Linked DNA regions of Homo sapiens. The protein of the gene in region 1 purifies or fractionates together with the protein of each later gene. This does not show direct contact. Each region holds a gene or a part of one and is shown on either strand. Other genes may lie near its edges.

Evidence for each region. The genes of interacting proteins can lie anywhere in the genome.
Region 2: the proteins of FGF11 (region 1) and SCN5A purify together in Homo sapiens (co-immunoprecipitation; 2 studies listed by BioGRID and IntAct, with this or other methods). This does not show direct contact.

Annotation. Positions count from the first base shown.
Region 1 is NC_000017.11:7,442,168-7,445,437, reverse strand, and holds the end of FGF11 (fibroblast growth factor 11), read right to left. Parts: intron 2,845-3,270; coding exon 2,646-2,844; intron 2,363-2,645; coding exon 2,292-2,362; 3' UTR 501-2,291; downstream 1-500. Other genes in the region: CHRNB1 (acetylcholine receptor subunit beta precursor), read right to left, coding at 29-168, 253-310.
Region 2 is NC_000003.12:38,608,088-38,611,687, reverse strand, and holds part of SCN5A (sodium channel protein type 5 subunit alpha), read left to right. Parts: intron 1-1,723; coding exon 1,724-1,954; intron 1,955-3,473; coding exon 3,474-3,537; intron 3,538-3,600. UniProt on the Homo sapiens protein: Pore-forming subunit of Nav1.5, a voltage-gated sodium (Nav) channel that directly mediates the depolarizing phase of action potentials in excitable membranes.

The sequences.
Region 1 (3,270 bases):
CTGACCTCCACCCCCCGCGCGCCCTCACCAGGCTGATGAGTTGCGCCAGGATGAGACCAACGCTGACCCTGACACGGTCTCCCACCTCCCGCGCTGGCCGCACGGAGCTATCATAGCCAGAGAAAAGTTTCTCCCGGAGTCGACCCTCCGCCTCCGAGCCGCGGACGCCTGGGGGAGGAGAGAATAAGTGCAGCCCTGGTGCCTGGCCACGACCGCTGGCCCCGTCACTGCCCCTTCGGGGCCTACACTTACCTGGGGCGAGCGGCGCCCCCAGCGCCCCCAGCAGCATCAGCAGAGCCCCTGGGGTCATAGCCTGGCGGCTCGCTCAGTGACTTCGCTCAGAGAGCCGCTGGGACCGCCAGCACAGGGGAAGTGACGAGGAGCCCGGGAATGTGCACCTGTTGCTGGAGGACAGCCGCCAGCCCACCCGCCCCGCCCCCGGGACTTGATCCTGCCTCGAGCAACTGCCAAGCCCGCCACCGACAGATGACAGACAGCACTTCAGTTGTATAAATCGTCTTTAATTGAGAAAGCTGGAGTGGAGACCCGATCCCCTGGGAGCAGTGCCAGGAGTTGGGTGGAGACTGAGTGGGGTTTGTGTGGGTGAGGGGGCATCTACTCCTCTTGCAACAAGCCAGAAGTAGAACAGCCTAAGGAAAAGTGACCTGCCTTGGAGCCTTAGTCCCTCCCTTAGGGCCCCCTCAGCCTACCCTATCCAAGTCTGAGGCTATGGAAGTCTCCCTCCTAGTTCACTAGCAGGTTCCCCATCTTTTCCAGGCTGCCCCTAGCACTCCACGTTTTTCTGAAAAAATCTAGACAGGCCCTTTTTGGGTACCTAAAACCCAGCTGAGGTTGTGAGCTGTAAGGTAAAGCAAGTTCTATCCAATTAGAAGCTGTTGGGGCGTATGAGGTCTGGAGTGCAAGAGGCCTTCACCCTTCTTGGCCTGACCTGTAGGGGAGAAGGGTGAGACTTATTGCTGAATTGGGGTCTCCTCACTGGGAGGGTCAAGGCTGTATCCATTTGTCCTTTTTATTAAGGACATATTACTCTAAGGACCTCAGCTTTAAAGGGGACCTGGAAGGAATTCCTGCTGAGGTAGCTAAGTATTCATGTCCACCCAACACAGATGCAGGTTCAGTCATGCCATAATTTTGACCCCTCCCCCATCCCAGCTTCCCTACTATGAGCCAGGGATCCTTCCAAAATTCCTCTGCCCTTCTCCAGACTCTGTCTCCCTGGCACGACCTCAGCTGGGTTGAAGGAGCTAGAAACTGCATGTAAAAATAAGCTTAGCATTCTATATGGAAGAATCATATTTTTAGAGAATTATCTAGGAAAAACAAGAAATGGTTCTTGATTCATCCAGAAGTGTTTTTATGAATCATAGCTGGGTCTTTTCCAGAACTCATCCGTAATAGGTATCACTCAAGAAGGCGGGAGGGTGGGGCTAGAACTTACTTAGAACAATAATATGGCTATACAGGCCCCAGCTCCATCCTGGGTAAAAGGGCTGAGAGTCATGATCTATGTCCTAGAGCTAGGATTCAGGGGGAAGTACGGCTCCATAAAGCTCTAGAATTGGGTGTCTCTGGGATAAGAAGGTTAAACCCGTGGTCATCTGAGACTGGTTCCGGTTCAGGCCAAAGCCAACAGCTAGACAAGGCCCAAATCTAGCCTCTTTCTACTTGGAAACCAGGGGTCCATCTGAGTCAATGACAGAGGCCTGACAGATCCAGAGAAAAGGCTGGCAGCATGCCTGGGTTCCAGCACAGAGCCCTAGTGCAGAAGTGGCCCTGGCGAGGGTGTCCAGTGTTCCAGAATGTGTCCAGACCAAGGTAGAAGGTAGAGTAGGGAAAGAAGGACACATGAATCCTGAGCTCCAGTGAATCTAGAAATGGCTCAGTGGCAATGAAAAGGGGCACAGGACTCCAGGAACTGGCTGAGCCGGGGTGGGAAGTGTTTATGCCCTGGCTGTCCATGTGGGAACTCCCAGCGCCATCTCAGGAAAAGGCATGGCGTTGTGTGAGTGTGGAAAGAAAGAAGTGATCAGCCAGGACCATCTTCAGACATCCCCCTCTCTGACTCCCTCCTAGGCCCAAAGATCTAAGGGTCTCAGCAGCCTCGGAAGTCACAGTCAGCCCCTAGGCTCCCTCAGGGTAGAGCACCTAGTGGGACCTGGCTGCTCAGGGCATGTGTGTGGCAGCAGGGGTGAGAGCAGGACTGGGAGACAGGTTGTGGTGGTGGCTGGCTCACTGGGAGTGCAGGGAACCTCCAGTCCAGGGACTACATTTCAGGGGGCAGGGGGACTGGAAGGGGAGGCCTCGGGGACACTGTGGAGAGAAGGCTCCTGGTACATGGCCACTGTGAAGGGGAGAAAGAGAGGAGCAGGGAAGGAGAGTTAGGCACAGAGGGACCCAGGCAGAACCAGTGCTCCAAAAGGGCTCCCTTCCCGTACATTCACCCTCCAAGAACCCCAACCCCACAGGAGGACCGCACCCAAACCCCCAAAGGGCAAAGCCTTCCTGGCTTGATCTGTCACAAAGGGTCCTCTTATCACTTGTAGCCTGAGCTGTCTGCCCCTAAATGTCCATATCAAGGTCAATACCCTCTCCTGTGGCCCACATTTTCTTGAGTCTATACCCACCCTCCAGGAGCTTGGGCAGAAAGTGGGCAGCTGCCTTGGTCTTCTTAACTCGGTTTCCCTTCATGACCTGGCCCTCCTTGTCCAGGCCGAGGTACCAGGCCCGGCCAGAACGACGCTGGCGGTAGAGAGCAGAGGCGTACAGGACGTAGTAATTCTCAAAGACACACTCCTTAAAGCGACACTCAGCTGTGAAATGCGGCTAAGGAGACAAAGACCCAGAAAGGCGCACAAAGACAGAGAGATAAAAAGACACATCACTGGGCAGAAAGGAGCTCATGGAAAGCACAAATCCTTTTTGGGGGAGGGGGAGGACAACTTCTGAGTCCATGTAGGACCTGGGAGCAAAGGGAGGACAAGGAAGAGGGCTGAGGGCTAAGAACTAGGCTCTGGGCCAAGCACAGTGGCTCATGCCTATAATCCCAACACTTTGGGAGGCCGAGGCGGGTGGATCACCTGAGGTCAGGAGTTCCAGACCAGCCTGGCCAACATAGCAAGACCCTGTCACTATTTAAAAAAAAAAAAAAGAACTAGACTTTTAGGGGTCTTGCAATAAGATTCCTTCTCTCCACTGTACTCCCAGTCTCTCACTATCCCCTATCCTGGATGACTCTAGGGAAGTGAGTAA
Region 2 (3,600 bases), on another chromosome or scaffold:
TTTCCATAAAATGAGAGTGAAATCAGAATTGGTGATTTCCAAGGGCTCTTCCACCCAGCCTGTTAATTCAGTGGCAGGAGGATTTCCCAGTTGATCTCCTGGGGCCAATCCCTTCCTGGGTCTTTTCAGAAAGAATCCTGCAGTTTCGTTGCAACCATTCTTGCCAGAAGTGAAATCTATCATCAGTATGAGAAATGTTCAAAGGGGTGAGTTACCCTTGGCCACTATGTCCACAGACCAGGTCAGGGGGTGCTTTGCTGGCCTTGAATGGGATACTTCAGGCCAAAGAGACTTTAGCCTAACAATTGAGGCAGAGACCAGTTTGGGTATTGGAGCTGCTGTCCATCAGTCTTCACTTTGTTCCCTTCGAGACATGCAGGTCTCCAGCCCAGTAAACCCACCAAAGGGTACAGGAAGCTCTGTTACAGATGAGGAGCTCTGGACCATGAAGAGCTTGTGAATCTCACCACCGCCACTACTCTGGACCCAGACCTGTGAGGTCCACCCACTGCCCAGGCAGTTGCCAACATCTGCCAGGAACGATTTCCACAAGGAAGGCTGAGTGCCTCTGAGCCCTGGGTGGGCAGCAATGTCAGTGGCACCATGGGGAGGTCATCCTCTCCCCATCTTGTGTTTGCTCATCATGGCCTCCCTGCCTGTGGGTCACAGGCCCAGCAGCAGCAGGCACAGAAGCCACAGGCGCTCCTAACACATTAACCGGCTGGACAGTGGATGGATGGAGCTTAATCTGAGATCTGGCCGCTTGGGACAGGGACATGAGGGGCAGGGCCCTGCCGCTGGCAGAGGAGCCTCCTCATTCCCCATGCTCTGCTTGCACTTGTCCTAGGACAGTCGCTAAGGGCCAGACTGGTGTCTACACATGCTTTTCTGTCATTCTGCTATGTGGTGCTGGCTTCTGCAGGGAGCTAGGCTGTGCAACTAACAGAACACAGCCTCTCAGCTATGGGAAATGGGATGGATGGGGGTGTGGGGAGGTTCTAGAGGGACAGGGCAAGTGAGAAGATGCAATGCAGGTCAGTCCTGTTCCTGAACCTTCCCTAAAGGTGGGCCTGAGCCAGCGCAGGCCCCTTAGACATCACCCGCCATGACCCCGCCAGACCGTCACCCACAGCCCCCAGCACACACCTGACCACAGCCCTCAGCCCCTACCCGACCAGACCCTGGGCCCCTAGTTTCCTCCAAACAATCCACACTCCCTGTACATCAAATAGAGCCAGCCCCAGCAGTGGGGCAGGAGGACCTCCAGCAGGAATGGCTCTATTTCTCCCCATCTCAAGATCAAGGCTGAGGCCCCTCAATTGCCTCCATCTCCTTTTCCATGGACTACATTAAAAGGGGTAGGCCTAGCACACCTTCAGACTAGCCAAAGGGGGTCATGCTCTGAGTATGTGTTGTCTCAAGAAAGCAGCACTTTCCACACCCATGCCATATATTTGGCTGGTGGAGAGCAAAGAGGAGCAGGCTCCCTCTGAAACTACAAAGCCAGCCTAGACTCCTGCCCAGGGAAATCAGGACAGAATCTCAGCTGTGAGGAAAGTGGGGCTTGGGTCTCAAAGCCCAGGAGAAGCCTCCCTTATTCTGTCCCCACCTCTGGTTGCCTACACTGGCCCCACCCCAGCTCAACTCAGGCCCAGCCCCCCACCAGTGGAGCACAGAGCTCGGTGCCCCTGGGTGACCCCGTGCTTGTTCTTGCCTTCCCCAGGGCTGAAGACCATCGTGGGGGCCCTGATCCAGTCTGTGAAGAAGCTGGCTGATGTGATGGTCCTCACAGTCTTCTGCCTCAGCGTCTTTGCCCTCATCGGCCTGCAGCTCTTCATGGGCAACCTAAGGCACAAGTGCGTGCGCAACTTCACAGCGCTCAACGGCACCAACGGCTCCGTGGAGGCCGACGGCTTGGTCTGGGAATCCCTGGACCTTTACCTCAGTGATCCAGGTGCGAACTTGCTCTGCAGCTGGGGAAGACTTTGTGAGACCAGCAGACCGGGGTCACCTCCCACACACGCGTCACCAGAGGGCAGGCCTCCAGGGCTGTTCAAGCCCTGCCTGATCCCCCAGAGACCCAGACAGAGGACAGACGGGTAGCAGACTTAGGGCCTGCCTTGTGACTTCCCAGGCTAGACGGAGAGGCAATGCTTGAGGAGTGGAAAGTATGGAGTTAGATAGAGGGCCAGTTGGCTGCGGCATTTGGAGATGGGACTGACCCTAGAGTGTTGCAATGGCAAGGTGACCAGCCTGCCCACAGAGTGTCAGCTTAGGAAAGGGGTGGACATGGAGCCAGCGTAGTTGATGAGGCTTCAGAGTGAAGCCCCACCTAGCTGGCATGGAGATTTCCCAGTTGCCGTCAGTGTTCCTTGCCAGGATGCTCGTTCCATATACGTGTACCCCAGAACCCTGCAAGAGGGTTGGAACAAGCCCAATGATTGTGCCAAGTTGTGTGAGCCCCTCTGTTGTTTCACTGCCCCGTGGCTCACACTTCCATTCTCCAGGCTGATGGCCAGCACCACTCTTGACTAGAGCCATTGGTCTGTTTCGGAGGTACATGCTGCTGCAAGGCCAGATTCCAGGCCACAGGACCCTGGGCCAGAATGACCCTGAGGGCCATTCTGAAGTTAGGGCCTCTTACATACACCAGCAGTCCACTTTGGAAAACAAAACATAGACACTCAATGAGTAGTTCAGCAGTGGCCTCATAACAGCAGTTCTAAAACTTCCATGTACACCCAAGTCACCTAGAAGGCTCTGGAAAACAGACTTCTGGGCCCCACCCCTAGAGTTTCCGAGTCAGTAGGTCTGGGTGGCAGTCAGGAAGTTGCATTTCTAAGCAGTTTCCACTTGATGCTGATGATGCTGGTTCGAGGACCATGCTTTGACAACTGTCGCCTAAGACAAAGCCAGGTAATGGTGAGTGTTGGGGACTGATGACTTGCCACAGAAAGGAGAGGACAAGACGGGCAGTCCTGTCTGGTGTAGCCCCATCCGGACAGACCACAGCGTTAGCATGGTGACTATTGCAGGCATCACTTCCAGCATTTTATGTGATGGAAGTGAGTACAGAGCTGGGCAGTAGCCGGCCAAGGCCCCACAGTGACTCGGCAGCCAAGCCGTAACTGCCCAGACCCTTGCCTCCTGGCCTTGGTGGGCCCCCTGAGTGGTTTCGGGTAGGGTGCAGAAGCTTCCTGTGGGGAGAGCTGAGGCCCTGCCCAGGGCTTCCCGTGTCTTCTGAGAGCATGGGGACACTGGCAGCAGGATGTCTTCAGAGGAACAGAAGGAAGGCCAGAGGCACAGCCAGAGTTGCCTGAAGCCTGGCCAGGCAGAGGGCAGGGGCAGGGGCAGGGAAGGGGCAGAGAAGAAGGAAGACCGCTAGTGAGGTCTCCACCTCCCCAGAGCCCTGGATGCAAGGCGGAAACTTTTGGGCCAGAGTGCCCCTCACCAGCATGATGTTTCTCTTACAGAAAATTACCTGCTCAAGAACGGCACCTCTGATGTGTTACTGTGTGGGAACAGCTCTGACGCTGGGTATGTGGCACCTACCACCCCGGGTCTCCTTGTCCTGCCAGGGGAGTCTCCTGGTGTTTTCTC